Linked DNA regions of Homo sapiens. The protein of the gene in region 3 interacts with the protein of the main gene of each other region in a biochemical or structural test. Each region holds a gene or a part of one and is shown on either strand. Other genes may lie near its edges. The genes, in order: EIF3A, NREP, EIF3B and RPS6KB1.

Region 1 (4,579 bases), on a different chromosome or scaffold from region 3:
ATCCTTTCAGTTATAAAATTTTCATTCAGCCAGATTTTTGCCACCTTGTCTTACGGGTTTATACTAACTGTAGTCCTTCCCAGGCTAGTGGTTTCTGCCTGTTTTCAGATTTTGAGTTTTATCTGTACATTTGTATGTTAAAGATTGTCAGAAATTGTATGAGCTTTCATTATGATTTCTGTATTTAACAATACAGAATTTAACAGAATTTCTGTATTTAACAATGATTTCTGTATTTAACAATCTTTAGTACAGGAATTTTGAGTAATTTGAGCCAATAGAATATAGTACTAACTTAATTTTTTTTTTTTAATTAAACTTTTTAGTAAGTTCTTGGAGACGTGCTGATGACAGGAAAGATGACCGGGTGGAAGAGCGGGACCCTCCTCGTCGAGTTCCTCCCCCAGCTCTTTCAAGAGACCGAGAAAGAGACCGAGACCGAGAAAGAGAAGGTGAAAAAGAGAAGGCCTCATGGAGAGCTGAGAAAGATAGGGAATCTCTCCGTCGTACTAAAAATGAGACTGATGAAGATGGATGGACCACAGTACGACGTTAAGTCTCAAGATAATGGATTTAAACTGGTGTCTTAAATAGGTTTGATCACATTCAAGGATTATTATACTTGTGCTTCAACCAATCTAAATTGGATTCTTTAATGTTGTTTCACCATAACACAAAAAGCATGAACTTGTATTAATCCTATATAATAGATTGATCATGCACCATATCCACAGGAGGTTGGAAAAACCATGCCATTTTCTGGAATTTAAGGGTGTTGCATTATTTCATCAATCATTTGTTGACAAAAAAGAAAAACTAAAAAATAAATTTAAAATGTGACCCTTCAGGTATTGAGTAACACCTTTATCTTGGTATAGAACTGATACTTTTTTTTTGATTTTGAAATATCTGATAATAATTTGGAATGAAGTAAGGTTCTGTTAAAATATATTTGAAGACCCTTTAAAGCAGTGAATCTGAAACAATTTTCACACCCTTAAGTGGTTGATACGTACCTATTTTAGGTATTTTGAGGTATTTACCATAAACTAAATTTAGAAATTTTTTAGATTCACTTGAAGTAAACATTACAAACATTGGATACGGTGGGGTTTTCTTTAGATTTTACTTGAGAGAAGGTGAGTACAAAGCAATTTGCAGTTGTTGTAATGACAAGATTACTGCGCAAGTGTGAATCCAAACAGTATAGCTTTTAAATTTTAAAGCATTTGGTAAATTATCGCTGAGTTTTTTTCTGTTGCCAATAGCAAACTGCTTTTCCATTAATGGAGAATTCATGCCTTTCAAGCATTTTAAATATGACAATATTTATAAATGTATGGTTTGGAGGAATCGTTTAAATTCTCTTTCCTAATTTTCTTTCTTTTGAAGATAGATTCTTTCAACAAGTAATTTGTAGTAATGACTGTGTTGACTTCAATTTTGGAGCGCAGTAGCTATGTTAAAGATGAACTATTTGGTCTCATTGAAGCCAACACAGAACTTGCTGCTGTGTTTTTTCTTCAGTGATAAATAAAATACTTACAGAATTTGTTTTAGTGTTGATTTGTGGTTATAGTATTTTGTTTATAATGGTAAGTTTGCATATTCAGTTGAGTTTTTTTTACTTGAATTTTTATCAGTGCCATTAAATGTCTGTGTTTAGTATCAATGAAAATGAACCTAAATATAACAAAGAAAGCATATGTGGCTAGGATGTCCCCCTAACATGTCTTCCTTTGTTAATGCAGGAATTCCTTAGTTTCCTTGTAACGCTGTCCTCTGAGTTTGTGTGTGCATGTGCGTGTTTGAAGTACCACCTTGGGTTTTCACCTGAAATTAGAAAAATCGTAGTTAATTTGAGAAAATGTTACAAATTCATCATGGCTGTAGGCACTTATTTCTGTTATTGAGTAGTGGTGAGAATTCCTATTGGTACAGCTGTAGGGCCAGAAGAGGGAGTATTGATGCTTTTTAACTTAACCAGATGCAGCTATTTTTGTTTGATGTTACCAATGATAGAAATCATTTTAAACACCTTAGTATCTGGTATTTCAAATACGTAGAAGTCTTTAAAGGTCTTTCGTGGGGAGAAGGACTTTTCTTTCATAACAAGAGAATTTCAGATCAGTGATTACAAGTGGGGCAGTAACTTGCTAAGAGTTTGCTTCCTGGAGAGTAGATCTGTATGTGTGACATCACAGGTAAGCCCCAAGAATTTATTTAATCAGATTTGTTCAGACGAGTTACTGCTGCCTACGTTAGAGTTAGATTTCAAGGCGAGTCAGCAAACCCATCCTTTCTGCTCAGTCTCCCGTACTGTTCTCCCAAGTTCTTTGTTCTGGGAGTCAGAACCCAAGTGCAAGAGGAGGGCAGAAGAGTCTGATGCTGTTACTTTGCGATCCTGCTCTTGGTTTCCACTGTCCAGGCCATACAACTCTGTCTACTCCCATTAGTATTTACCAACAGGTGTTAAAGGAAAGCTGAACAAGCAGCCTACTCACCGATCTGCTAGGTGGTCTTCCATGTTCATGGTGGCTTCTGCAGTTTCATTGAGAGTAACATTGCTGTTAATACAGATAGATCCAGTAGTAGAGACATCATCGGTCCAAAAGACTTTGCATCTCATTAGTTGTCCATAGTGACTACCAGGAGGTGGCTGGCATCTATAACGTGTGGGACGTTTTTATGTAAAGAACTGCCTGTGTTTTTTTTTTTTTTTAACCAAAGACACTGACCATAGATTGACTTATACTTTTATAAGTCTAATTGAAATACTTGGGGTACTATGAAAGGACTGTTCCTTGAGTGGCTACGATTAGAAAATCAGGACTAACAAACTTTTCTTTGTCTGGAAGCATATATATTTGTGATATAATTTTAATATGTATAATTTTGGTTTAATAAATCAAATCTATGACAAAAGTTGTTCTCATCAAAGCTAATAATTCTGCAACTTCCAAAAAGGACTTTGTAGGAAAATTAAAATACAAAGAAAAATAAAAGCCACTAGAAATTTTAAGTCTGTACAGAAAAGAACAGGTTAAGACAATCTGTACCTCTACAGTTGGAGAAGCCCTTTTGACTCTTCCCTGTATTGTTTTGCTACTAGGCAAGTATGCAGCATGTTCTTATGAAGATAATTTTGTCATACTTTGTATATTTCTTAAACTTTGAAAAATTGGGTTTCTCTAAATGTAATTTTGCAAAATGTTTAAAGTTCCACATTGAGTTCCAAGGATTTTTAAATGAATGTGTTTACATATACTTTTCATAAGAGAACCCTAGAAAATTAACTATAGTAATACTCTGCGTTTTAACTCCCAGTATTCATTGTCAGCTGGAAAACCTAGGCAAATTTGGCACAGGGGCTGAACATGGGGTACTTTTTTTCTTTTTTGGAGACAGAGTCGCTCTGTTGCTCAGGCTGGAGTGCAGTGGCGTGATCTGGGCTCACTGCAACCTCCGCCTCCTGGTTTCAAGCAATTCTCCTGCCTCAGCCTCCTGAGGAGCTGGGATTACAGGCGCCCACCACACCACCCGGCTAATTTTTGTATTTTTAGTAGAGACGGGGCTTCGCCATGTTGGCCAGGCTGGTCTCCTGACCTTGTGATCCACCCCCGCCTCGCCTCCCAAAGTGCTGGGATTACAGGCATGAGCCACCACACCCGGCCTGAAAATGGGGTACTTTAAAAATAGATGAATAGTGGCTGCCTGAGTAGTGGAGAGGGTCTTCTGGATTCCTTTTCCAATACTCTCCTGCCCTCAAGAAGCTCCAGCTCAATATGTTCTTAGTTCTGGTAAAATAGCAATGTCAGAATATCAAATTAACATTAGGCACATCTCATCACAGTGACTCCCATATATTGAGGCTATGCCAAAGCCCCATGCTCAAGACCTTTGGAAACCGTCTGTAATTTGACTCTGAAAATACAAAGTAGCTAAATTGATCTTGCCACCTGGCTAGCCCTTTTGGCCTAGAGAATGCGCTGATCTGTTCATAGTGGTCCTTTTGAAAAGGCAGAACACGAGCAGTGAGAGAGGTAAGAGGATTCATGTTGACCTTAGAAACTTCACCCAGAAGGTGAAGCTCATTTAAACTGGTAGATTTTCTATAGCAAAAGAAAGGAGAACAAGTAATTACATGGTTTCATTAAGCTACTTAATTTAGGCCCAGTCAGATCTGCAGTTCTCTCTGGTCTGGGGTTAAGACTAGCAGCGTTGGATTATTTGTCTTTCCTGGCTAAGAAACATTGTGCTTTCCTCCTGCCCCCCAAGTTCTTGAAATGCACCTTTTCTTTCACCAAAAAGACAGCTATCGGGTATTTACCCCATCCTCTAACACACCTTCAAATGAAGGTTCCTGATTGAGTCAATTTGCTGTGGATGAAGTTAGCTGTTTAATGCGAAAGCAGTCTAACTTCTAGTAGCCTAGCTAAATCCTACTGGGAGCCTTATACACGTAGACTAAACTCTTGCTGGTATCTTCAGATAGTAATGCATTTGTGTATTTCAGATGAGTTCATCTTAATTCACTTCCATTTTTTGCCTTCTATTGCCTTGCTTGGCAGGTAGCTGC
Region 2 (8,931 bases), on a different chromosome or scaffold from region 3:
GTATTTGGACCATGCCATTGAAAAATAAATAGCAAATTTTGAAATGAAAAGCTTAAAAAGTGTTTGAAAAATAATTTAAGCAATAATCTAGTTTGCATATTTTTTAGGACCTTGGGGGACTGGTCTCTGAATTTTCCCACATTTCATTTTTCTCATTTGGAGCACTAGTTGTCAGCTATTAATAATAGTTTATACTAAGCAATAATTACCGGTGAGCTAATTACTTTATAGACTTTAAAAATGCAGTTATTTTTCATGATGCACTGTCCAAAGAGTAAAACAAGCCTCAAAAGAAAGGAAAGAAGGAAGGGAGGGACAAAACCCTGAGTATTTTATTTCCAATTTGTATGCTGTGATAGAATATTGAAACTTACCCAACTATCAATACATTCAAGAGAATCAGTACGAAATAGCACATTTTCACTATAAGTAATATTTAAATATATAGTGGGTTTAAGTATATTAATTATACCCAAAAGCATAAAATTGGTATTTCCTAAGAATTGATCAAGGATATCTAAATACAAGTCATGATTAGTATATTTTAAACCAGTGTGGTTCTTTATGACGTTCTGTTGTTTTTCAACCTAATTGTCAGTGAGATAAATATAGCATCATAGAAAAAGATGCATTAACCAATATATTCAGTGACAAGTATAAACACTCAAACTTCCCCAGAATTCAAACAAAACTGTTGCATATTCTCCAAATTAAAGTAACAAAATTTTCCTTCCCTCTACTTTTTTTTTTTTAACTAGCATTTTTGTTTTCTCAATTGTTGAAGGTACGATTTGCTTTTCTGATTTTCTAATAGACTTCTGGAAGAATAGTATTCTAGAGGGTTTTGAGGATTTTATTTGGGCAAAAACAATTGTTTATTGTATACATGGAAAAAGCAGTTTTAAAAGAAGACATACTTTTTGTGAAGATTAATGCAAACTTTGGTTTGTTTAATGAAACAACAGTTTTGAGGTATTCCCATACCCAGAACGCTTAAATTTTCTAGATGCAAACCACCGAAACAACAATAGAGAATTCAATGAAGTGTCAAAAAGAAAGTTAATTTAATTGGCCTTCATGAAAAACACAAACTTGAATTCAGACAATGAATGAATGGAATGCAGTATCAGCCACGTGTCCATGTTTGGAGTGTCAGTTGATGAGCACCAAGAAGAATGGGCAGCTTTACAGTTCAGCAAGCACAGATGGACTCTAGATAGATGGATCAGCTTACCAGTTTTCTGACCCTCATATTATCAGCACTCAAAAGCTTCAGTGATAGGGTCATTGTCAGTTCCTAATATTCTGAACTAGTTAGAAAACTGAGGGCACAGAAACTCATGGGTTCATGTGGGTCTTGTTACTGCTGTGGCCCCTAGGAGCTGCAGGGAGACCTGGCTACAGGGCCACTTGCCTGCATGGAGCTTATTCTGCACTTATCCCTCACCCTTCTATCATCTTCCTTGGCTGATTCTGACAGCCATCAAATGCCCTCCCAGATGTGCTCACTGCCACCCCCATTTCCTTTGTTGACAGCACTACTGGATATTATGCTAAATGTTGGTTTTGTTTGTTGTTTAGTCTGTTGATAGATGTTCCAGCAGCTATTACATTTGACTTAACCTATATATTTCTTTTTTGTTGTTGCCCTTAAAAAGCACACTGTGTTTAGTTTGCGAGGGCTGCCATAACAAAGTGCCACAGACTGGGCAGCTTACACAACAGAAATTTATTTTCTAACAATCTGGACGCTGGAAGTCTGAGATCAAGATGTTGGCAGGGTTGGTTTCTTCTGAGGCCTCCCTTCTGGGCTTGTAGATGGCTGTCTTCTCCCTGTGTCTTCATATGGTCTTTCCTCTGTGTATCTGTGTCCTAATCTCTTCTTAGAAGGACATGGGTCACTTGAGATTAGGGCCCACCCTGATGATGTCCTTATTTTAACTTAATTGCCTCTGCAAAGATCCTGTTTCCAAATACAATCACATTCTGAGGTATTGGTGGTTAGGACTTCCCCATATGAATTTTGAGGTGATACAAGTCAGCCCATAACACATTTTTAAAAGTAAATTTTTGTGGATTGATCACCCCTGCTGTACCTGCCCCACCCCCAGACGTGAGCATCTAGAAGGCAGAAACTCTGTTTCTCTTGCAATTCCCACAACCTAACAGTGTCCAGCACTTTGCAGCTATTTCATGAACTCTTGCTGCATGAATGCAAAAAAGGTTGGTAAGAAACTTGAAGTTGAAAAGTGGCACTATTTCTGACTGCCAGAAGTAGCACCTGGCGAGTAGACTAGAACATGTTCCGATGAGAAGAAGAGGCAAAGAAAATACAGTACATTTAAACCGAGACAGCTTTTGACAGAAAGGCAAATGATTGTTGCTTGGGATCACCCATTCTCCACATCCAGCACTGGGAATGGAATGGAAGTTCAGGCCCTTGCGGAATACCAAAGGTCAGGTCTGAATCATTTGAGAGCAAAGGTAATTAATGATTGTCAATAGATCTTTTCTCTTAAGCTCTTCACTTTAGAGTCTCAAAATACTGCAGGTATAAGAAAGAACAATGCTGTAATGCAGATAGATCATATTTGTTTCCAGTAATTTACCACGGTTTCTTAAAACTAGCTGTGCTTAAAAAAATGAAAAGTTTAAATATCTCCTTTAGGTACTATGTCTAGGGATATGCTGAGTTCTTAGATACCAGCCAAGCAGGTTTTAAGAATGTAACTGAGACTCCTCTGTCCCTGCCATTTTTGGCTTAAGGTTCTGACTTTGAAGGAGATTGGAAAACTACCAGAAGGCCAAAGCAACGTTCATTTTTCTAAAAGTATACAATGATTACTTGATGATTCAAATACTAAAAAATGCCTAATGTGCTAAAAATGCCTAATAGTGAAAAAAAAAGCCTTGGTCAGTGTAACAAATATGAAGTAAGGGAGAAAGTTTCCTTAGTCATGTGTGTTTTGCTGTCAGATATTCATGTTCCCAAGTTCTTTGGCAAAAGTCATTGGCTTTTTTTTTGTTTTTGTTTTTGTTTTTTTTTTTTTTAGCAAATGGAGAGTTCTTAGAACAACAGATTGTTAGAATAGGTGTAATAATTTCTGAAAGGCAAGCTATTTTCCCCTACAAATTAGACTTTGGTGGTTTTAGTAATGATGCTTAGAAGTTAAATGTTAAAGCAGTGTCATTTCGTTAAAATGGAATATCCCAGAAAAGCACAAGAACGCAAGAATGACAATACTTACCTGACCTTGCTTTTCTTTGCTTCCTGTGCCTACAAAGTTTTTACATGTACTTTTATCAACGTTTTTGGTTTCCAACAGAACTTAATTTCTCACTAATATTTTAAGACTGTACTTGAAATATGATTTTTAAAGTGGTAATATAGAAATGTAATCACTTTATATCCATTTATATGAAGTGAATTTAACAGTAGATTCAAACTTGGGGTCCCCTAAAGTTGAGCCCAAACTGGGCTTTTGTGTGCTGTGACTTTGTTATAAGTCTGAAAAAAGCTTGTGTATTTGAGATTATTTTGTTTTCTTCACCCATTCCTGGATAAAGGAAATGTCAGAAGTGGCTGCTTGTCCCAAACAAGGCAGATGGTGGATTACTTTCTGAAGGAGCTGGGCACAGGAGAGGAATATGTGGAAAAGTAAGGTGGTTGGGGTGAGGGGAACCACATGGCTCAGAAAACAGACCCAGTCCAAAAAGAAAATAGTTCTAGCTCTTGCAGAATGAGCTCTCTTTAAGACCCAAACGTGGGTGGCGGCTGTGGACTGGTATAATTTTGAGGGAGTGGTGGTAGGCGATTTGCATTCTGGGATAATGCGAGGGCAGCAGGATAGTGGAAGGAACTGAAGTTTAGAATCTGGAAACCTAGTGTGAGTTTCAGTCCTACCCTACACTACCTGTGTGACTTGGGGCAAGTCGACCTTTTTGAGTTTCAATTTCTTCATTTGTTTAATGATAAGACCAATATTATTGGCTTATCATCAGGACAAATTAAGTAATGTATGCAAAATTGCTTTGTAAGCTAGGATGTGCTACAAATGTCACTGGTGTAGAGCAAAGATAGTTAGTTACTGTTCAATTATTCCGAAGAGTGAACACACTTAGCCATCTACATTTCCTACCCTAGATTCCCTGACAAAATGGATTGATCGGGGTATACCAAGCATTACAGTCAACTCAATGATTAGGTTACCTCAATTACGGCTTCCAAAACCAAAATGTAAACACACATCTAAGTCTGTTTGTTAATCTGTTAATGAGGTGTGACTCTTAATTGTTGTTTATTAAATGTGAGGCTTATTTATTGCAGAATTTGGAGAATCTGATCTGGAGGGAATCTTACCTAATTTCACTCTGCTTTCAATCAGAACTATATTAAATGTGAATTAGCCCTGACAGATGGTTGTTGGATTCTGTTTCTAAATTTTTTAAAGAAGATTTCACAGTTTTTCTCTAATTTCTTTTAGTAATTTGACAATTCTTATGCTGAGTTCTTCCTTAGAGCTGACCCAAATCTTAGTTGTAATTTTAAGGCCTTTCCCCTCTCCTGTCATTACTTGAAGATGGAGAACAGCTGGTCGGCAACCTTATGCTAATCATCCTTTGTATATTTAAAGAAGAGTTACTCAGTTCCACTCCCTCGCTCCACCCCCTCCCACCACCGAATTCATCAGCTAGTATTCTCTGAATCATTCATGGTGATGACACCTATCTCCCGCCCCTCCCTCAGACACTTGGCTGTTTCAGGCAGCTGGGCAGAATGTGTTGTCACTGGCCACATGGACTTGGAGAGAATCTGGGCTGCTGCTTTCTTTCCTCTTTTATTTTATTCATAATCTTTGGCCTTCTAATAAATGATCAGAATAACCCTTAACAGTGTTTGATGGAGTTTTGCAAGGATACTTATAGAATCCTTTGAAAGTTAGACCTCCCCGATGACTTAGTGCACTCAGCCAGACATACCATGAAGCTGCTACTTTGCCTGCTAAAAATAACATTGATTGATATCTCTGCTTTATTGGACTTAATCTTGGAAGACATCGAGCTGAAACTCTCCTGAGTGCAGTGCGTGTTCAGAAGCACACTAACAGTTTGAAAGAGTTAATGGTTTCCCCAGTGCTCTAAGTGGTAGTCGGGAATAAGTAACCATTGAGGAGAATTGAGCTCATTAAGGTTATCCCGTGTAGTTTCAGAGTGGATCCTGTTTTTAATCTGAATGTGTATGCTTTTGTGTCTCTATAGGTTTATTACCCAGAACTCTTTGTCTGGGTCAGTCAAGAACCATTTCCAAACAAGGACATGGAGGGAAGGCTTCCTAAGGTAAGATCCTTAGATGCCATATTGTTAACACTATTTTCAATATAGAAACAATTGTTTTAAAATATCAGAGCTTTTTCATTTGAATACCCATTATAGGCTGCTATAACAATCCATTAATCTGATACTATGATGACCTTGGAAATAATGTACTTTTAAAAAATATCCTAAAGTCCTATGACTTAAAGTTCACATTATCTTCCTTCATAAATGAAAAATTTTCATTTAAAACATGGAATCAGTTTATCAAAGTACAGTTTACAGGTTTTAAGTCTGTTCCATTTCTGGTTAGACAAACTCAAATACAATGATCAAACTAAAAGATTTCTTAAAAGTATGATGACTATTAATTGTCTGCTAATGAAGTCTGAAGGTCTGATAAGATTATCCATGAAGCAAAAGGGAGGAACAAAAAAACTGTTACATTTCTTTCTTCTAATTTTTGAGCCTAAAAACCATTTTTTATAAACGTGGTTTCATTGTTCTGACATCTTAGGTGTGGCAGTTCTCTGCCTCAAGAAAATTTGTAAAATTTATATTTTAGATTTTAGCATAATTTCTGAAACAAACAATAACAACTACTTACCAGTTTTTACTGTAGATACTGGACTTTGCCTCTTAGGGTGAATACTTGTTTGACTTCAAGCGGGGAGAGTATACTTTTTAACCAATGACTTGCTGATTTTGCAGTTAAGAAAGAAAAACAGAATCCACTGAAAATAAAATTTCTATTTGAAAGTTTCATAAGTGTAATTGACTAACGGTGAGTCCTCCCCCAGCTGTTACTGGTATTTCAATGTTTAAGAAATTATTTTATTTACACTAAATAGTATCAACAATTCCCTATCTTATACTGGCAGGCAGAAACTGAAGAGGTTGTATCAACTGGCAGTTTGCACTGAAAGAAAACAATCTTAAATCACTTTTAATCTTGCAGAGCATTTTTGAAGGTCAAGGTTGAAATCACTGGCAGGAAAGTAGGTGAACAAAATGGTTTGACCCTGCCTGAACTAGACTTGCACTGATTTGTAGAGCTGGAGTGGAAGAGAGCTAAAATAGTAGCGCTTTCCTTAAAAGACACCCACACCCCACCACCTCACCAGCAGCACACCAGCGGCACGAGCAGTATAACCACAGACATTCGTCACTGTGCCAGATCAGGGCATAATTCTCTTAAGGCAGCTGAGGCCTTCACATTAGTTCTTGCCTCATTCAGGCATCCAGAGGTCCTCTCTCTTTGATACTGGTGACATAAACCAGAGGGGCAAGACTAGGCATAGTTCCTTGATGAGTTCAGTGGTGCCTCACCGTACCCTTAGAAAGCCAGCCCTGCTGTGCTAGGTCTTGTCTCACACAAAGACATGCTCCCAGGGGTGGGCACCGTGGATCATGGTATTCAGGTCTTCTGCTATTTTAAGTTCTTTCTTCTCTAAATATGTGAATAATATTTTAAGCATAGTGTTATTTGTTCTTTTTCCAGAAGTTCCCTTCTGGAAAAGCATATCTTTGTATAATTGTAGGAAAAATAATCTTGACTTACTTGGTCCAAAGCACATTATTAACTGGGGATTAATTTCCTAGTAGTCATCTGTCGGGAGGGCTGATCCACCCCGAGGCACATTAACTGGCGTGACTTTCAGGACGGCGGGGCTGTGGGAGCCACTGGACACATCTGCCCCCCAACCCCTAGCCTCTTGAATTACTCAAGTCCCTCAGCTCTGTTGGCACAAATACGTGCTGGATGATAGAAGAACCGTTTTTCCCATGGATGAACTTTTTTTGGCTTGAATTCTTACAAGGCCTGACTTCTGGATCTGGAGAAAGAAGACTTCTTTGTGTCCCATCTTCAAAATGCCTCCTCCACTTGTTGCAGAAGCCTAAAATTCCTTTAGTTGGGGCAGAAAGCCTATTATTATTTAAAAAAAAAAAAAATAGTGGGAGGGTGTGTGGATTGAAATCAGTCAGGGGAAGAGGATTGAAATCTAGTAAATGCAGGACTCCATAGGGAGAACGCACAGAACTCTGTCTCCTCAGGAGCACCTCTCTCCACGGGCATGGTGGGCTCCAGGCCCTCAGGGTGCTTCAGTAGCACACCTCCCTGTGGGCCCTACTACCATTGCCTCATGAGGGTCCAGTCTGTATGCTTGTCTTCCACACAGCAAGTTAATGAAGGGTGAGATGGGCAGGGACTGTTACTGTTTCTGTTTCAATCTCTCTCTAAGCTTGAAATCGAATAGAGTACTCCAGCCATAGTAGGCACTCAGAAAATGAATAATTAATGAAGAAATGTATATTATCTGGGACCTTGAAACAGAAAAAATGGTAAAAATGGTAAATTCAAATCTGAAATAATCGTCACTTTCTTTTTTTCTGGAAGTGCCTCTTCCCAAATCCCTAGCTCTTCCTTTTGTTTTGTTGTGTATGTTTCATGGAGGTAGAAGATTAGTACTGAGACTGAGATTTAAATAGAGAGATACACTAACGTTCTGTATATTCACTTTTGAACAGAGTAAGTCTGAACTGGAGCAGTTTTAAGGCAAGCTGTGTAAAGACTATAATTGTTGAGTTAACATTTATCAACTTTTGGTTTTCCTTCTTTTCTTGCCTGTGACAATTAACAGCCATTGAACTCTTCATTTGTCCAAAACCTAAGTTTGTCCTATCCTGAACCATGGTAACTGGTTGACTGTGGGGTGAGGTGGGGTCGGGCTGGCAGCATTATTTTAAAGACACTGGGATTACAGTGGATTTCCTTTTTTTTTTTTTTTTTTTAAATTTTGGGACTGTGTACCAAGATTCCAAGATTGAAATTATTTTCACAACTGCAAGTAACTACCCAATATTATGCTTTTGGAAATTGAATCTAGACCCTTAAGGGTGTGTGAGTGGTGAATTATATTTTTATTTAATTTTCTGGTTTGGTCCCATTGGTATTTAATGATACCAAAACAACCTCTAAAATCACAACCTAAGATTGGAATATTAAAGTACATCATGGTTATATATGTGCAAAAAATGCTGTATGCTCTCAAAGTCCGAGACTTTTAAGTAAAAAATTGAGGCATACCAGATGTTTAATATGGAAAATCTGTACAGTAAGTAAGACTTTTTAAAGTTGAATAATCTGTTGCATTTAGTTCACCCCTGGGTTGCTGAAAATATTTATTCAATTTCAAGTTGTTTGGAAGTTACTGGTTTCTGAATTCTTAAAAAGAAATTCAGATGTGTTAATTTATAGGCCACAAAGTAAGATTATCACTTTAATCCAAGTACTTTACATCTAGTCAAACTGGCTTATTAAAACTGTCTTGTTAGAACATGTGACTTGAGCAACAAAAAAAAAAGCCCACATGTTTTAAAACCACAAAGGATAATTTCTTCCAAGAAAATGTCAGTAATTAAAACTCCAGAGTTCAGCTGAAAGAGAGACCATCGTCAAATCTTCACTGTGTTCATACCTGTACAGGGCATAAAATCTATCTGTTGTAAATGAATACCTGTATTGTGCATCATGTGGGCAGGTGTGCTTCACTGTGCTGTGCTTCTGCTGTCTGGTTGTGATGGAGAGCTCCTCTCCACTGTTGGCGCTGCAGCAGT
Region 3 (8,931 bases):
CAGTAATCTCTTGTTGGGTGGACCCCGTTTCTTGGCCTCCTTCCTCTGTTGATGGACATCAGGGCAGTTTTCCCTCAGACTCCTCGAGTAGGGCAGGACTTCTTGAAGGTTATGGCTACAGGACACCCCACTGTCTGAAGTGGTTTACCCAGCCCCATTGGTGTGCCTTTAGGGCCCTCAGGACCCTGGCCTGCAGCCTGCAGTGTGGACCCTGGGACTGCTTGTGCCCAAGTGTGGCGGGCAGGGCGGCTCCTGGAGGTGGGATCTGGGTCAGAGTTACTTCATGCATGTCCAGTGGCTTCCAGTAGACGTGGTGCCGGCAGTTCTCCAGCCTTAGAACCGTCTTCCATCCTGAGGGCTGTGGCTTTCATCACTGCACATGCTCGTGTGTGAACCAGGCATGCACACTGAATCTTTCATTGTGACGTTGATCTTTGATTTAAACCTTTTCTCATATTTTCACTGTCCAGAATGTCACCCCTTCCCCCTTTTTTTTAAACAGGGTGTTGTCACAAATTTTGAAATTTTCCGAATGAGGGAGAAACAGGTACCTGTGGATGTGGTCGAGATGAAAGGCAAGTTGTATTTTAGTCACTTTGAGGCGAATGGGGCCTACGTGCTGTTTTACTCTTGGCTTTAACACTTCCATGCGAGGGGTTGTCTGAGCAGCTGAGTCAGGACTGTGAGCCCTCACCATGAATAGTCATCTCCAGGTCACAGAACGTGTTTAGAGCCTGGGCAACATAGTGAGACCCTCTCTGTACAAAAAACAAATAAAAAAAATTAGCCAGGTGTGGTGGTGCGCACCGATAGTCCCAGCTGTTTGAGACGCTGAAGCGGGAGGATCACTTGAGCCCAGGAGCAGAGGTTGCAGTGAACTGAGATTGCGCCCCTGCACTCCAGCCTGGGTGACGGAGCAAGACCCTGTCTAAAAAAAAGAGAAAAGAGATTGAGCCTGTGTTCTTGTTTGGCTTTTTGTTTTGCCATGGAGAAAAGGAGGAAGGAAGGGTTAAAAATAGGTGAGAAAATGGGAAACATGGCCGCCCTTCCAGGCAGGGAGACCGGAGGTCAGGATCCCACTGTAGGTGCACACTGGGTGCGAGGGAAGCGGCATCCACAGCTGCTGACAATGTCGGGCTCCTGCGGTCCTGCTGTGGGTGTCCTGCTCTCAGGAAGGGAGCAGTTTCACGTAGGTCACTCCACACAAGTGGAAGCAGCTGTCTCTGAAACTCCAGGAATGTGCACCTTTCCTGCTGTTGCTTGCTCTCCCGTCCTTTTAATGAACTTTTACACGTCGGGGGATATTTCTCTGTGGTTGAATAGTGAACATTTTAACTGATCAAGAGCACTATGTTCTGAATTGACCAAAAAGGGAGGGGTCTGTTTTGTGCATTTTAGAAACCATCATAGCCTTTGCCTGGGAACCAAATGGAAGTAAGTTTGCTGTGCTGCACGGAGAGGCTCCGCGGATATCTGTGTCTTTCTACCACGTCAAAAACAACGGGAAGATTGAACTCATCAGTAAGTAACCTGGTCCCTTTCCTCTTCTGAGTAGGTCAGCACAGATGATGACCCAGTCGCTGCCCAACAGTGAGCATTTGACTGGCCTAGGACCACTGCTGGGCAGGCCGGGACTCGCCTATGAATGGGGTGTGGCCTCGGCTGATGGAAGTGAGCGATGGCCTGGAGGTGCCGCCTCCTTGCAGGGTGTCTCTCTGAGCCCCGTTGAGCCCTCACGTTTAAGCGAGTATTTCCAAGGCTTCCATTCTCTGCCATCATCTCAAGTGAAGCTTTTTCTCTTCTGGCTGTAGCTGCTGTCCCTGGGCTTGGGGTCACTTCCTGTGGACATACTCCTGCCAGTCCCCAGTCTGGGTCAGGTGCCTTTGACCAGGGTGCGCAGAGCTGTTGCACACAGCTGTACTCTGCCCCCGTGCACCCGGTTCCAGGGGTGCCACACTGCACCCACCTGGGGCTCGCTCCTCACAGTGGTGCGTGGGCCCTCGCCTGTCTCACGGCACCTGCTGCCTGTGCCCTCAGCTCCTCACTTCATCCTGGGGTCTCTGCTCAGCACAGAGCCCGGTGCCCGCGGGGATTGAATGAGCCATTGCTTGTTGCTTCATAGGCGTGGGGTGTGTGTGTGTGGTAGCCAGGAGGTGGCGATGGGCTGTGTTCCTCACACAGGACTCTGGCTGCCAGCTGCCCTCCTGCAGAGCCATGGGTTTGGCTCTGTACCAGGAAGGGGTTGGAATCTCCTGGCCGCACCTTTCGCAGCATGATTCTGTGAGGAGTTTAGTTTTCACTTTGCTAGAGCTTGGCAGGGTGCGTGGTGCCCTCAGTTGGCAGTGGATTACAAGATTGGCTGTTTCATTAATTCTGGTTGATAGAAACATATGGGCAATTGCAGACTGTCCAGAGACTTGTGTAAGTCTTCTAGGTCATAAAACATAGGCAAGCAGAGGCACCTTGTACCTTCCAAACATGCTGCGTGACACGCCTCTCCTGAGGTTTGGCATGGACGCTGGGGCCACCGCATGGGCTCCATCCCATGCCCGTGGCTGTTGGGGTTTTCGCTTGTGCAAGTCTGAGACCCCTGCCCCTGCCAGGGTGCACTGCCCTCCCACATCTCCTCCCCTCCTCCCCACGTCAGCCTGCCCCATGCCTCTTTTTTGGATGTACCACAGGCTGAGGGGAGAGAGGCCACAGGTTGTCAGCTCTGTTTGAGATGCAGGGAGCATATGCTCTGAGGGGGACTTGAGCCAGCCCCAGCTGGCCTTCACTTCTCACTGTTCCAGCGGCTCTGCCCGAGATCCATTCCGGAAGTAAGAGTTAGTACCTGCAAAGATGATGACTGTAGTCAGTTTCAACAAGCATACAGCTTATCCAAAGACGCCTTGTCGCTAGGAGAGTGGCTTTGGTCTTTTGGGGTCACACGTCTCTGACATCTCTCTGTTGGGGTCCCTGCAGCAGTGAACATTTGCTGTAAAGGGAATTCTTTGTCCAGTTACCTCAGGAAATAAGATAGTATTGTTTTGAAATACCCCTGTCGCATCTTCTTTTTTTTCCCATTTAAAGTATGGATCATGACTTAGGGGGTACTTGGCGATGGACTTTGTAAAATTGTTTTCCGAGGTGGTCCAGCATTACCAGCTCTGCCCTCATGGGCAGCATGAGCACGGCCAAGTCCTCCAGCCTTGGCTGCCCCGGCACTGTGGAAGCCCTCGCAGCTCGTGACAGGCGCGCTCTTTCCTTTCAGAGATGTTCGACAAGCAGCAGGCGAACACCATCTTCTGGAGCCCCCAAGGACAGTTCGTGGTGTTGGCGGGCCTGAGGAGGTAGGTGTCTGCGCTCTGAGCCTGTCCGCCCTGTGAGTAGCGCTCTGCTGTGGCAGAGACCCCTCAGGCGCCTGCACCCGGCTTCTTGGTAGAGAGAGTATTGTGCGCTGAAAGGGTTGCCCCAGTGTCAGTGGATAGGACTTCATTGAACCTCTGCAGACCCACGGTACTCCAGGACTCAGGCCAAGCCCGCACAGAGTGAAATAAGCGCTCCCAGATGCTTTCGTGAAGTGACCAGGCAGACCTGTCTGCGGGTTGTGGTTCTCTGTGGTTAAACAAGTGCCTTCCAGCCATCCAGTAACCTCCCCCCGGGGGTCAGTCCCTTGTCTTCTAGTGGGAAGGGTATTCGTTACACAGCTGTGAGGCTGCCTTACCTTTGTGGTTGGTGTCACGGTGTCGGTCTCAGCTGTGTTCCAGCAGTGTGTCGAAATCATGGAGAAGCTTCCAGCTTTCTGCTCTGAGTTAAAAGAATACCCTTTTGTTGCTGCTCTCCCTTGCTTCATTGTCCACACTTGCTACTGTATTTTTGGAGGCTTACTTAGCCTCAGATAACATTTCCAGTAAAAATAATATGATGGCAGTCATATGTAATACTCACTGCACACTCTGCATCTGTGATTTGGTAAGTCTCACAGCGGCCACCAGAGGCTGTTGCTGTGCTTGTTTCCATGTTAACGCCGAGGCTGGCTCCCTGGGGACCCCATGCCGCAGCACCTCTCAGGAGTGGGATGCCAGGAGGTATGCGTCTCCATGAAGCCTGACGGTCCTGTCTGTCTTTGCAGTATGAACGGTGCCTTAGCGTTTGTGGACACTTCGGACTGCACGGTCATGAACATCGCAGAGCACTACATGGCTTCCGACGTCGAATGGGATCCTACTGGGCGCTACGTCGTCACCTCTGTGTCCTGGTGGAGCCATAAGGTGCAGGCCTGTGGGGCATAGTTTTGACTGTGGATAGAAGCAGGGAGTGCTGGCTAGCTGCTGACTCTGGTGCTGTCCTGGGACCTCAGGGAAGGGGCACCAAGCCTCTGTGTTGAACAGAAGCCTTGGCTGGTGTTAGTGGCAGGAGGAGGAGGATTCTGGGTTGTAGAAGAGGTGGCGCCGAGTGCAGGAGCAGCCCCTGCTCATGGTTGCGGGGAGGTGGGGGGTCTTACCCTGGGCCCAGGGACCCCTGAAAAGGAGTGAGAATGTCTGCAGAGAGGAGTCGTTTCCTTTGAAGTCTGAACAGAGTTCCATAACCGCAGACATTAAGATCTGTTTTGGGGTCAGTGGTTGAGTCCAGCTGCCGCGTTACCCACAACTCGTATTCCAAAACTGCTGGTTAAGTTTGTCAAGGACTTTCAGTATTTAGTGACTTGTAAAAACATTGATGGAGGCACTGATACTTGAACTAGTCCATGCCAATAGAGCCTGTGAAACCAAACGCGGGTAATTTTGTTTAATGAGATACAGAATTTGTAGGAATATCAACTTCCCAAATGTTACTGCAAGTGTCTAGAGTTAGAAATCTTCGCATTCGAATCAGGATATGTTGATCACAGCCTGTGTCCAGGTATGTTCAGATGTCACTGCGGTGGGGCCTGCCTTGACACTTGAAATCACTTTAGGCCAGGCACAGTGGCTCACACCTGTAATCCCAGCACTTCAGGAGGCAGAGGTAGAAAAATCACTTGAACCCAGGAGTTTGAGACTAGCCTGAGCAACATAGCGAAACCCTAGCCCCATTAAAAAAAAAAAAAAAAAAAAGACTTTTTAAGCTGTTGACCACTCTCCTTGAGTTATGAACACTTAGCTTCCAAAATGCCGGCCTGCAACAAGGAGTTTATGCTGAGTGCCAGTGAAGGCGCCCTCCTTCATGAGAGAGGCCTGCCATGAGGAGAGCGGAACTAGGCGGCGTGTAGTGATGCAGTTAGCTTACATCCAGCACAGGGCTCCGCACAGCTCACACCCGGCCCAGGGCTCAGCAGTGAGTAGTGCTATGCAGTTAGCTTACGTTTGGCACAGGGTTCAGTCCAGTTTAAATCCAGCACGGGGTTCAGCGGCGCAGTAGTGAGGCAGTTAGCTTACATCCAGCATGGGGTTCTTATTGCCAGCCAGAATGTGCAGGCCTGTGCTGTGATGAGCGCTGCTCCAGCTGCTCCGTGCCCCGCACTCCGGGTCGGTTGCATAATGGAGGTGTCTTGCATTGACTGCCCACCTACCCTGCTGTCAGCTCAGCACAGGCAGAGCTTTGTTTGCTTCACACGTGTCCCCGATACCCAGGACCTTGTTCAGCAAGTGACATAGTCACGGTTGTGGCTCTCTGACCCCTCTGTGTCCTGGTGTGTCCCTGCCCTGGCCTAGGTGGACAACGCGTACTGGCTGTGGACTTTCCAGGGACGCCTCCTGCAGAAGAACAACAAGGACCGCTTCTGCCAGCTGCTGTGGCGGCCCCGGCCTCCCACACTCCTGAGCCAGGAACAGATCAAGGTCAGCATGCCCCCACCCCCGGGTGCAGGGCACATGGAGGCAATTGTGGCGTTGAAAAGGTGTCAGTTTTTTCTGTTATTGTTAGGGTGGTGACTGGGGGATAAAAACGTGACATTTGCAAGGATTCTTTGAAGAGACGCAGGAACAGTGAGAACTGAATGGAATAGAACAGCTTTAGGATAGTAACTTGAGGCTTTCAGCTTCTTTAGGGAAGTTTTGCATGAACCCGAGGGGTGGATAAAAAGATGCCAGGGCCATTAAAAAGTCCTGCTGGGATTAGAAGCGGCTTGTCTGGGATTTACATTATTGTGGTAAAATAGGCCGTTGGTCTTAGGTCAGAGCAAAGAGGAGGGTTAAATCCCAGGGAGAAAGTCCGTCTCAAAGTGAAAGATGGAGGAAGGAGCAGGCACGAGCGCTCCTGGGATGCTGTGTTGTGTGAATGACCCTGGGTGTCAAGGAGGAAGGAGCAGGCACGAGCGCTCCTGGGATGCTGTGTTCTGTGAATGACCCTGGGTGTCATGGAGGAAGGAGCAGGCGCGAGCTCTCCTGGGAATCCGTGTTCTGTGAATGACCCTGGGTGTCAAGGAGGAAGGAGCAGGCGCGAGCGCTCCTGGGATGCTGTGTTCTGTGAATGACCCTGGGTGTCATGGAGGAAGGAGCAGGCGCGAGCGCTCCTGGGATGCTGTGTTCTGTGAATGACCCTGGGTGTCATGGAGGAAGGAGCAGGCGCGAGCTCTCCTGGGAATCCGTGTTCTGTGAATGACCCTGGGTGTCAAGGAGGAAGGAGCAGGCGCGAGCGCTCCTGGGAAGCCGTGTTGTGTGAATGACCCTGGGTGTCGAGGAAGGAGAAGGCGCGAGCACTGCTGGGATGCCGTGTTCTGTGAATGACCCTGGGTGTCATGGAGGAAGGAGCAGGCGCGAGCTCTCCTGGGATGCTGTGTTCTGTGAATGACCCTGGGTGTCATGGAGGAAGGAGCAGGCACGAGCGCTCCTGGGATGCTGTGTTCTGTGAATGACCCTGGGTGTCATGGAGGAAGGAGCAGGCGCGAGCTCTCCTGGGAATCCGTGTTCTGTGAATGACCCTGGGTGTCAAGGAGGAAGGAGCAGGCGCGAGCGCTCCTGGGAAGCCGTGTTGTGTGAATGACCCTGGGTGTCGAGGAAGGAGAAGGCGCGAGCACTGCTGGGATGCTGTGTTGTGTGAATGACCCTCGGTGTCATGGAGGAAGGAACAGGCGAGCGTTCCTGGGATGCTGTGTTGTGTGAATGACCCTTGGTGTCATGGAGGAAGGAACAGGCGAGCGCTCCTGGGATGCTGTGTTGTGTGAATGACCCTGGGTGTCATGGAGGAAGGAGCAGGCGCGAGCGCTCCTGGGAAGCTGTGTTGTGTGAATGACCCTGGGTGTCATGGAGGAAGGAGCAGGCGCGAGTGCTGCTGGGAAGCTGTGTTGTGTGAATGACCCTGGGTGTCATGGAGAAAGGAGCATGCGAGCGCTCCTGGGAAGCTGTGTTCTGTGAATGGCTTTGGGTGTCATGTCATGTTGGCAACTCTGAAGATTGCATTTGTGCTTGTTGCTTTGAATGTTAAATCCTGAGTGATGGGTCTTTTGTTTCAGCAAATTAAAAAGGATCTGAAGAAATACTCTAAGATCTTTGAACAGAAGGATCGTTTGAGTCAGTCCAAAGCCTCAAAGGTGAGCCTCATTCCCAAAATGAGGGCTGTGCTGTGACATCCGCCATCATGGCAAAGGCGGGGCTGCGGGGAGCTGCTGTGTATGTGCTCAGAGTTGCCTCTGCTCCGAAGACACTGGTTCTGTTCCCCCCCAGGAGGGATGCACTGGGGAACTGGGGTTGGCACGGGGACTTGGAGTTGGTGACCTCACTGCTGCCTTGTGGGTGGGGGGCAGCGTTGGGGGAAAAGTGAGAATGAATGGACTAGCCATTCCTGCTTGAGTGCCTCTGTATGCTGTCCTTCTGGCACCGTCCGCCTGGGTGTGGGCTCTTCGCGATGGGGAGGCACTTGTCTTACCAGTTCTGTGCTTTCCCCAACCTCATGCATAGGAATTGGTGGAGAGAAGGCGCACCATGATGGAAGATTTCCGGAAGTACCGGAAAATGGCCCAGGAGCTCTATATGGAGCAGAAAAACGAGCGCCTGGAGTTGCGAGGAGGTAACTTAGAGATCCCTCAGTCCCCAGGAGCTGGCCCTTACGCTGCCCCTGGGCCCTGGTGCCCGCGGACTCCTGCGTTCCTTCCCACTGGCCTCGGCGGTGCCACTAGGCATGTGCCCCCATGGGTGATCTGCGCCCTTTGTCCCCTCAGGGGTGGACACTGACGAGCTGGACAGCAACGTGGACGACTGGGAAGAGGAGACCATTGAGTTCTTCGTCACTGAAGAAATCATTCCCCTCGGGAATCAGGAGTGACCTGGAGCACTGTGGTGAGCGTCTGCAGGGGGCGCGATGGGGGTCCTGTTGGCTGCTCATGCTGCTTCAGTTATCCCCGTCACTGAGGAAGCACCTCCTTTAAGGCAGGGGTGAAGGGTGAAGCCCTAGTGTCATGTGCCCAGGGTTAGCTGAGCCTCGTGTGAAATGTAGAGTCGGTGCCGACGTGGCCTCGACTGCGCCCTCTGACCACATTGCAGATGGCGCCTTTCAGGCAGTGCTGGGTGAGGGAGGAGCTGTGGCCAGGTGTTGGGAAGTGCCAGGAAGAGGAGGGTGGCCATGCCTGGCCATTTCCTGATACCTGTGCTAGTGACGGCCGCGGTGTGTCCACTGGAAAGAAACACTGGCGTGCACGGCTGTGACTGTGGTTTCAGCAGTTCTGAGACAAGAGCCTTCCAAGTCGGGGGCTGGGGAGCAGAGTGCGGGAGCTCCTGAGTCCTGGGGGCCTCCGCGCCTCACAGCATGGGCACATGTGGGACAGAAGGCCTAATGGGGTGCCTGAGGGTGGCCTGGTTGCTGTCCCCCCAGGGTGGGACCATGAGCGAGTAGGGGTGGCACACGGGCTCAGCTCTCTGTGGCCGGGGTGGCTCCTCTTGCGGGACTCAACGTCAGCCCCAAGGCGATGTTCAGGGGGTCCCTCAGCCTTTTGAGGTGGTGCCGTTTAGGGCCGCCATGCCTGTCTATCCAGGG
Region 4 (8,931 bases), on a different chromosome or scaffold from region 3:
TTACTCCGGGCTGTGCGCAGTGGCTCACGCCTGAAATCCCAACACTTTGGGAGGCCAAGGAGGGCGGATCATGAGGTCAGGAGTTCGAGACCAGCCTGACCAACGTGGTGAAACCCTGTCTCTACTAAAAATACAAAAATTAGCCGGACGTGTTGGTGCGCACCTGTAATCCCAGCTACTCAGGAGGCTGAGGCAGGAGAATCACTTGAACCTGGGAGGTGGAGGTTGCAGTGAGCCGAGATCACGCCACTGCACTCCAGCCTGGGCAACAGAACAAGACTCCATCTCAAAATAAATAAATAAATAAATAAATAAATACTCCAACTCAACAATAAAAAGATAAATAGGCCAGGCGCAGTGGCTCATGCCTGTAATCCCAGCACTTTGGGAGGCCAAGGTGGAAGACTGCTTGAGGCCAGGAGTTTGACAGCAGAACTCTAAAGTGAGATCTCATCTCTAAAATAAATAAATAAAATATATAAAGAAAAAGATGACACACCCAATTTTTGAAAAATGAGCTAGGATCTGAATAGGTATTTCTCCAAAGAAAATATACAAATGAACAATAAGCAAATGGAAAGATGTTCAACATCATTAGTTGTTAGGGAAATGCAAATCAAAACCACACTGAGAAACTACTTCACACCCACTAGGATAATAGATGATAAAGAGGAAAAGTAAGTTGGGGGAGGATGAGAGAAACTGGAACCCTCATACAGTGCTAGTGAGAATGTAAAATGGTGCAACCGTGTTGGAAAAGTTCGTCTCTTAAAAAATTAAACATAGACTTACTACTGCATGACCCAGCAAATCTACTCCAATGTATCTACTCAAAAGAAATGAAAAGTATATGCTCCACAAAGATCTGGGCAATAATGTTCATAAAAACTTTTTTTTCTTTTTTTTCTTTTTGAGACAGGGTGTCACTCTATCACCCAGGCTGGAGTGCAGTGGTGCGATCATGGCTCACTGCAGCCTCAACCTCCTGGACTCAGGTGATCCTCCCACTTCAGCCTCCCGAACAGCTGGGACTACAAGTGCATAGCACCATGCTCGGCTCTTTTTTTTTCTTTTTTTTTTTTGAGACAGAGTCTCACTCTGTTGCCCAGGCTGGAGTGCAGTGGTGCTATCTCGGGTCACTGCAACCTCTGCCTCCCAGGTTCAAGCAATTCTTTGCCTCAGCCTCCTGAGTAGCTGGGATTACAGGCACCCGCCACCACGCCCGGCTAATTTTTGTATTTTTAGTAGAGATGGGGTTTCAGCATCTTGGCCAGACTGGTCTTAAACTCTTGACTTCATGATCCACCCAGCTCGGCCTCCCAAAGTGCTGGGAATACAGGCCACCATGCCCAGCATCGGCTCATTTTTTGTAGAGAACAGGTTTCATCACGTTGCCCAGGCCGGTCTGGAATTCCTGGACTCCAGCGATCCACCTGCCTCAGCCTCCCACAGTGCTAGGATTATAGGCATGAGCCCCCACACCCAGCCTTCTAAAAGGTTTATTCAGGCCAGGCGAGGAGGTGGCTCATGCCTATAATCCTAACACTTTGGGAGGCAGAGGCAGAAGAATTGCTTGAGGCCAGGAGTTTAAAACCAACCGGGACAAAATCACGAGACCCCCATCTCTGCAACAAATCAAAAAATTAGCTGGGAATGGTGGCACGTGCCTGTGGTCCCAGCTACATGAGAGACTGAGGCAGAAGAATTACTTCAGCCCAGGAGGGTGAAGCTGCAGCGAGCTTTTTCACGCCACTGCACTACAGCATGGGCAACGGAGTGAGACCCTATCTCCAAAAAAAAAAAAAAAAGAAACAAAAAATGCTTTATTCACAATTCAGTTGAACATCTGAATGAATAACTCAAATGAACATCAACCGGTAAATGGATAAACAAAATGCACTGTAGCCATAAAACAGAATAACTATTTGGCCCTAAAAAGAAATGAAGTACTGATACATGTTACAACATAAATGATCTTCAAAAACTTTATGCTGTGGCTCACGCCTGTAATCCCAGCACTTTGAGAGGCCAAGGCAGGCGGATCACTTGAGGTCAGGAGTTTGAGACCAGCCTGGCTAACATGGCAAAACCCCATCTCTACTAAAAATACAAAAATTAGCCAGGTGTGGTGGCGCACACCTGTGGTCCCAGCTACTCAGGAGGGTGAGGCAGGAAAATTACTTGAACCCAGGAGGCAGAGGTTGCAGTGAGCAGAGATCACACCACTGCACTCCAGCCTAGGTGATAGAGTGAGACTCCATCTCAAAAAAAAAAAAAAAAAAAAAAGTGAAAGCCACCAAATATAAAAGGTCATACACTATATGATTCCATTTATATGGAATGTCCAGAAAAAGCTTTTTTTTTTTTTTTTTTTAGAGACAGGTTCTCATTCTGTTGCGCAGGTTGAAGTGCAGTGGCAGGATCACGGCAAACTCAACCTTGGAGACTCAAGCGATCCTCCAACCTCAGCCTTCCAAGCAGCTGAGACTACAGCCGCACACCACCAAGACGGATAATTTTTTTCTATTTTTCGTAGAGACACGGGTCTCACTATGTTGCCCAGGCTAGTCTCAAGTGATCCTCCTGCCTCGGCCTCCCAAAGTGTTGGGATCACAGGTATGAGCCACACTGGGCCTAGAAAAGCCAAATCTATAGAGATGAGAAATAGGTTAGTTGCCTGGGGCTGAGGGTGAGAATCAGAAGTAACTAAATTGGCCAAAACTCTGTTTCTTTTTTTTTCTTTTTTTTTTTTTTTTTTTTTCAGAGACAGGGTGCTGTTATGCTGCCCAGGCTGATTTCAAACTCCTAGGCTCATGCGCTCCATCTGCCTTGGCCTCCCAAAGTACTGGGATTACAGGCGTAAGCCACCATGCCCAGCCCCAAAATTTCTTTATAGGGTGATAAAAATTTCCTTTTTTTTTTTTTAAGATGGAGTCTCGGCCAGGCGCGGTGGCTCACGCCTGTAATCCCAGCACTTTAGGAGGCTGAGGCGGGCGGATTGCAAGGTCAGGAGATCGAGACCATCCTGGCTAACACGGTGAAACCCCGTCTCTACTAAAAATACAAAACATTAGCCGGGCGTGGTGGCGGGCACCTGTAGTCCCAGCTACTCGGGAGGCTGAGGCAGGAGAATGGCGTGAACCTGGGAGGCGGAGCTTGCAGTGAGCCGAGATCGCGCCACTGTACTCCAGCCTGGGCAACAGAGCGAGACTCCGTCTCAAAAAAAAATGCAAGGTCTCACTCTGTTGCCCAGGCTGGAATGCAGTGGTGCAATCTCGGCTCATGGGAAACTCCACCTCCCAAGTTCAAGTGATTCTCCTGCCTCAGTCTCCCAAGTAGCTGGGATTACAGGCATGCACCACCACGCCTGGGTATTTTTGTATTATTAGTAGAGACAGGATTTTACCATGTTGGCCAGGCTAGTCTTGAACTCCCAACTTCAAGTGATCCATCTGCCTTGGCCTCCCAAAGTACTGAGATTACAGGCCTGAGCCACTGCGCCCGGCCGAGTGGTAAAAATTTCTAAAACCTAATTTTGGTGATGGCTGCACAACTCTGTAAATATACTCAAAGTCACTGAATTGTATAAACAAAAAACAACAAAAAACTTGGCAGCAGAATTTCAGTTACTGACATTATAATATATAGCTTTAAAATCAATCTAATCTGATTATGAACTCTCAGTTTACACGAAAGGATACTAATTAATTTAAAATAGACTCCAGGCCAGGCGCGTGGCTCACGCCTGTAATCCCAGCACTTTGGGGCCAAGGCAGGCGGATCACCTGAGATTGGGAGTTCGAGACCAGCCTGGCCAACATGGAGAAACCCCGCCTCTACTAAAAATACAAAAATTAGCCAGGCCTGGTGGCGGGCACTTGTAATCCTAGCTACTCAGGAGGCTGAGGAAAGAGAATCGCTTGAACCCAGGAGGTGGAGGTTGCAGTGAGCCAAGATCGCGCCATTGCACTCCAGGCTGGATGACAAGAGTGAGACTCCATCTCAAAAAAAAAGAAAAAGAAAATAGACTCTAAAACATTACAAGTCTTTAAGCAATCATGTCAAAACTTTAGAGTAGTTAAGATATTAAAGTGAATATATCTTTCTTCAAAACTACCAGTACACAGCCAACATACACAACAAAAACACATAGGGGTGTGTGTGTGTGTGTGTGTGTGTGTGTGTGTGTGTGTGTGTGTGTGTGTGTGTGTGTGTTTAGCAATTAGGTTTCTGTCACCCAGGCTGGAGTGCTGTAGTAGGATAATAGCTCATTGCATCCTCAAACTCCTGGGCTCCAGTGATCATCTCTTCTCAGCCTCTGGAGTCACTAGTGCCAGGCGTGTGCTGTGTGCTACTATGCCCACTATTTATTTTTTTAATTTTTTGTACAGATAGGGTCTTGTTTTGTTGGCCAGGTTGGTCTCGAACTCTTGGCCTCAAATGATCCTTCCACCTTAGCTTCCCAAAGTTCTGGGATTACAGGCACGAGCTATCATACCCAGCCAAAAACTGATAGTATTCTTATAGAATAAATGTTCAAATGCCCCCAAAACACAAAATTTTAGTCATAACTCACTCATGGTGTGACCAAATCACGATAACATGTAATACCAGGAATGTACACTTCATGATTATACCCAGGCAAAGAGATGGGGCAGTATCAAGGGGGAAAAAACCAATTCTCACCATTTTAACTGGATACAGTTTCTTTTATGTGTGGGATATGGGGGTGGTCATGGTTAAAGGTTTTTTTTGTCTTTGTTGCTCTACGTAATCGCCTAGGATGGCTTCACTTTTATGACAAAAGACTAACTTCTTCCAGATGTGATAAAACTGGTATTACATAATTGTTTTTTCTTTAATGTTAGTTTTACTTAATTCTAAATTAAAGACTACAGAGTAGTTAAGACTGGACCATGATTTTGAAGCCACCTCACAAGATACGCCCTGTAGCTATGTTTCATTTCCTAAGCTGGCCAGACCTATAATGCTGGCACCTGCATATTGTGCTAATAACTTCTACCGTTACTGTCTAGGACAGAAGCATTTGAGGCACAAATCTTTCCTGCTACTCAGTGTTACCTCTAGAAGGCTCACACAAGAAGTGTCAAATAACATTATGTAATACATACTGACAACTCTCTTTCACAGGAAACTCTTTACTCCTTTTTTTTTTTTTTCTGAGACGAAGTCTTGCTCTTGTCCCCCAGGCTGGAGAACAATGGCGCGATCTTGGCTCACTGCAACCTCTGCCTCCCAGGTTCAAGTGATTCTCCTGCCTCAGCCTCCCGAGTAGCTGGGATTACAGGTGCCTGACACCAGGCCCGGCTAATTTTTGTATTTTTAATAGAGACGGGGTTTTCACCATGTTGGCCAGGCTGGTCTCGAACCCCTGACCTCAGGTGATCTGCCCACCTTGGCCTCCCAAAGTGCTGGGATTACAGGCATGAGCCACCCCGCCTGGCCAGGAAACTCTTTACTCCTAATTTTTTTCTGCTGCCTTAAGCTTTATGGCCTATCCAATGTCTGCTGTGTTCATTAGGATTGACAAGATTCAGTAACTTAGAGGAAATGGAAGAAAGGGTAGAACTTTGCCTAAACTCTTGGGCTATTTAAAAATAGTTGCTGCTGGCCGGGCACGGTGGCTCATGCCTGTAATCCCAGCACTTTGGGAGGCCGAGGCAGGTGTATCGCCTGAAGTCAAGAGTTTGAGACCAGCCTGGCCAACATGGTGAAACCCCGTCTCTACCAAAAAAATACAAAAAATTAGCTGGGTGTGGTAGTCGGCACCTGTAATCCCAGCTACTCGGGAGGCTGAGGCAGGAGAATAGCTTGAACCCAGGAGGCAGAGGTTGCAGTGAGCCGAGATCGCACCACTGCACTCCAGCCTGGGCCACAAGAGCAAAACTCCGTCTCAAAAAAATAAAAAATAAAAAAAAGTTGCTGCTTTATAGTAAGTATATATTACAAAGCAAGATAAGTATTGATATTTTTTCTATAATTTTTCATAATCATGAATATTTGAGTATATACTATCTATATAGCACTTTGGTTTTCAAAAATTTTAAACCTTTTACTCAATAAAAATCTGATGTCCCAATCTGAAACTTGTACAGTAAGCCTGCGTGATTATTTCAAATTTTGAATTAGAGTACAAAGTGAGAATTTTTTAAATTGCATTACAGTTTTCTACTACTCTTAATGCTATAGAGAGCAGAGAAGATTCCAACATTTTTGCAATCTAAATTCTCTGAAGGAAAACTTTTCCTTAGTTTCAATTTACTGCCCCAAATGATATCATCAACAGTGAAACAAAAAAACAAACAAAAAAGACACCCTCCGCCCAAAAACTCCCCTCTTACCAATAGGCTTTGATTATATTCCTCTGAGATATTTAAACAGAATCTTTTTTTTTTTTTTTTGAGACGGAATCTCACTGTGTCGCCCAGGCTGGAGTGCAGTGGTATGATCTTGGCTCACTGCAACCTCCACCTCCCAGGTTCAAGAGATTCTCCTGCCTCAGCCTCCTGAATAGCTGGGACTAGAGGTGTGCACCACCATGCCTGGCTAATTTTTGTATTTTTAGTAGAAACTGGGTTTCACCATATTGGCCAGGCTGGTCTCCTGCTCCTGACATCGTGATCCACCTGCCTCGGCCTCCCAAAGTGCTGGGATTACAGGCATGAGCCACTGTGCCCGGCCTTAAACAGGATCTTTTTTAAGTTAGGTGGCAGATATTCAACTTTGTCCATAAATGTATCATTTAGTCTCATCTTTTAATCTCTAATTAAATAAACTATGGAAATACCTATATTTACTAACGCATAGTCACTCTGTAACGTACCTTGAAAGGCACATCTCTCTAAACGGGATCAATTAGTTTTAAAAAAAAATACACACTATGATACTACAGTTGTAAAAATACAGCACCTCGAGTTTAACTGCAATTATTAAGTCTCTAGGTATACGAGGTTAAACCTGAATGATTGGTTCCTTAGCAATGACAAGACAAGCTGAATTTCTGTGAACTAGCTAATTGCTTAATACGCCAGGATATTTTGAGAGTACTGTACTTTACGTACTTATTTAATGTAACCCTCATGTTATAGAAAACATTAGAGATTAAGGAATTTACTCCAGGTCACAGAGTGAGTATGGCCAAAGGAATCTGAATTCACTTTTGACATACCACAAAGAGGAACATTATAAACACAACTAGTAAATGCAATGAAGAACCTGTGCAATGAAGCCTGCTGAATTAAGTCAGAAGACACTACCACTATGTGATCTTTGGCTATCATATGGCCTATGCCTCAGTTTCCTTACTATAAAATGAGGAAAACTGATATGCACCAATGTTTAAAAACTTTGTGTAATAAATTAAAGTCTATAAATTCACAAATAGAAACTATCAGAAGATTTTCTAAGAATCTAAACTTCTCTCATTTTCCAGAATTTTTTTTTTTTTTTATTTCAGGGTAATCTGGATGTCACCGAATCTCCTTGGATTGTCAACCCAATCGTACTCCAAATCTTCCATTATCCATCTTGAGGCACCTCTTAGAAAAAATAACACACTAAAAAGAAATATTTTCAACTCCAAAAAGTGTTGCTAAGACATATTTTACAGAAGTCTCTTCCTCAAAATCCTCTTTAATTGCCTTTGCTCTTTCCCCAGACTTTCTCTCCCCAAAATCGGGGCCATATTTCTTTCTCTTTCCTATTTCCACCAATTTTTCTGACCTCCTCCTCACACCTTCTCAAAATCCTACTTGCTTGTACCCAGCAGGACAAAAGCCCTGGAACACCTACTGTTCTTGAAACACAAGAAAGTGAAAAGAAAAGTCCCAGTTTACACAGGAATTTTAACAGAGTACTGTACTTTCAAAAAAGAATAAACCTGGCTGGGTGCGGTGGCTCACACCTGTATTTTGAGAGGCCAAGGCAGGCAGATCACCCAAGTTTGGAAGTTCCGGACCAGCCTGACCAACATGGAGAAACCCCGTCTCTACTAAAAATACAAAAATTAGCCGGGCCTGGTGGCGGGTGCCTGTAATCCCAGCTACTCGGGAGGCTGAGGCAGGAGAATCGCTTGAACCCGGGAAGTGGAGGCTGCAGTGAGCCGAGATAGCGCCATTGCACTCCAGCCTGGGCAAATAGAGCAAGACTCTGTCTCAGAAAAGAAAAAAAAATAAAATAAAATAAACCCAGTCTGGAAATTCTATCAGTTCAACTAATGAAGATATAAAGCACCTTCCTATCCAGTTTTCTCCCCTGCCCTGCTCCAAAGCCACTGTCATAGAGAACCAACATAACTGATAAAGAGTATGGTATATGGTATAAATAATGAAAGTAATCTCATATTTGTTTCCAATTGTAACTAGTGTACCATTATGTTCGATTAAGAGGCTAATTGGAATTCTGCATGAAAACATCATTGAAAAAGCACACACCAACCGGATGCAGTGGCTCACGCCTGTAATCCCAGCACTTTGAGAGGCCAAGGCTGGCAGATTGCTGGAGCTCAGGAGTTCAGGCCCACCCTGGGCAACATGGTGAAACCCCATCTCTACTAAAATACAAACAATTAGCCAGGCATGGTGGTGCGCGCCTGTAGTCCCAGCTACTCGGAAGGCTGAGGCACGAGAATCGCTTGAGCTCAGGAGGCGGAGGCTGCAGTGAGCCGAGATCAGGCCACTGCATTCCAGCTTGGGCTACACAGTGAGACTCCATCTCAAAAAAAATTAAAATAAAATAAAGTAAAAAGCCTGGTGGGGTGGCTCACACCTGTAATCCCAGCACTTTGGGAGACTGAGGCAGGTGATCACCTGAGGTCAGATGTTCAAGACCAGCCTGGGCCACATGGTGAAACCCCATCTCTACTAAAATACAAAAAAAGTAGCCAGGTGATGTGGCGCGCCCCTGTAATCC

What was found.
Region 1: the proteins of EIF3B (region 3) and EIF3A interact in far-western blotting, tested with the Homo sapiens proteins (one study listed by BioGRID).
Region 2: the proteins of EIF3B (region 3) and NREP form a complex in vitro, tested with the Homo sapiens proteins (one study listed by BioGRID).
Region 4: of the proteins of EIF3B (region 3) and RPS6KB1, one has a biochemical effect on the other in vitro, tested with the Homo sapiens proteins (one study listed by BioGRID).

The regions. Positions count from the first base shown.
Region 1 is NC_000010.11:119,032,016-119,036,594, reverse strand, and holds the end of EIF3A (eukaryotic translation initiation factor 3 subunit A), read left to right. Parts: intron 1-326; coding exon 327-556; 3' UTR 557-2,925; downstream 2,926-4,579. UniProt on the Homo sapiens protein: RNA-binding component of the eukaryotic translation initiation factor 3 (eIF-3) complex, which is required for several steps in the initiation of protein synthesis.
Region 2 is NC_000005.10:111,731,836-111,740,766, reverse strand, and holds part of NREP (neuronal regeneration-related protein), read left to right. Parts: intron 1-1,040; exon of another isoform or gene 1,041-2,463; intron 2,464-5,259; coding exon 5,260-5,337; intron 5,338-5,920; exon of another isoform or gene 5,921-8,931. UniProt on the Homo sapiens protein: May have roles in neural function. Ectopic expression augments motility of gliomas. Also promotes axonal regeneration. May also have functions in cellular differentiation.
Region 3 is NC_000007.14:2,371,275-2,380,205, forward strand, and holds part of EIF3B (eukaryotic translation initiation factor 3 subunit B), read left to right. Parts: intron 1-502; coding exon 503-575; intron 576-1,398; coding exon 1,399-1,521; intron 1,522-3,253; coding exon 3,254-3,332; intron 3,333-4,114; coding exon 4,115-4,253; intron 4,254-5,675; coding exon 5,676-5,801; intron 5,802-7,414; coding exon 7,415-7,492; intron 7,493-7,859; coding exon 7,860-7,968; intron 7,969-8,119; coding exon 8,120-8,223; 3' UTR 8,224-8,237; intron 8,238-8,906; exon of another isoform or gene 8,907-8,929; 3' UTR 8,930-8,931.
Region 4 is NC_000017.11:59,895,456-59,904,386, reverse strand, and holds part of RPS6KB1 (ribosomal protein S6 kinase beta-1), read right to left. Parts: intron 1-8,931. UniProt on the Homo sapiens protein: Serine/threonine-protein kinase that acts downstream of mTOR signaling in response to growth factors and nutrients to promote cell proliferation, cell growth and cell cycle progression.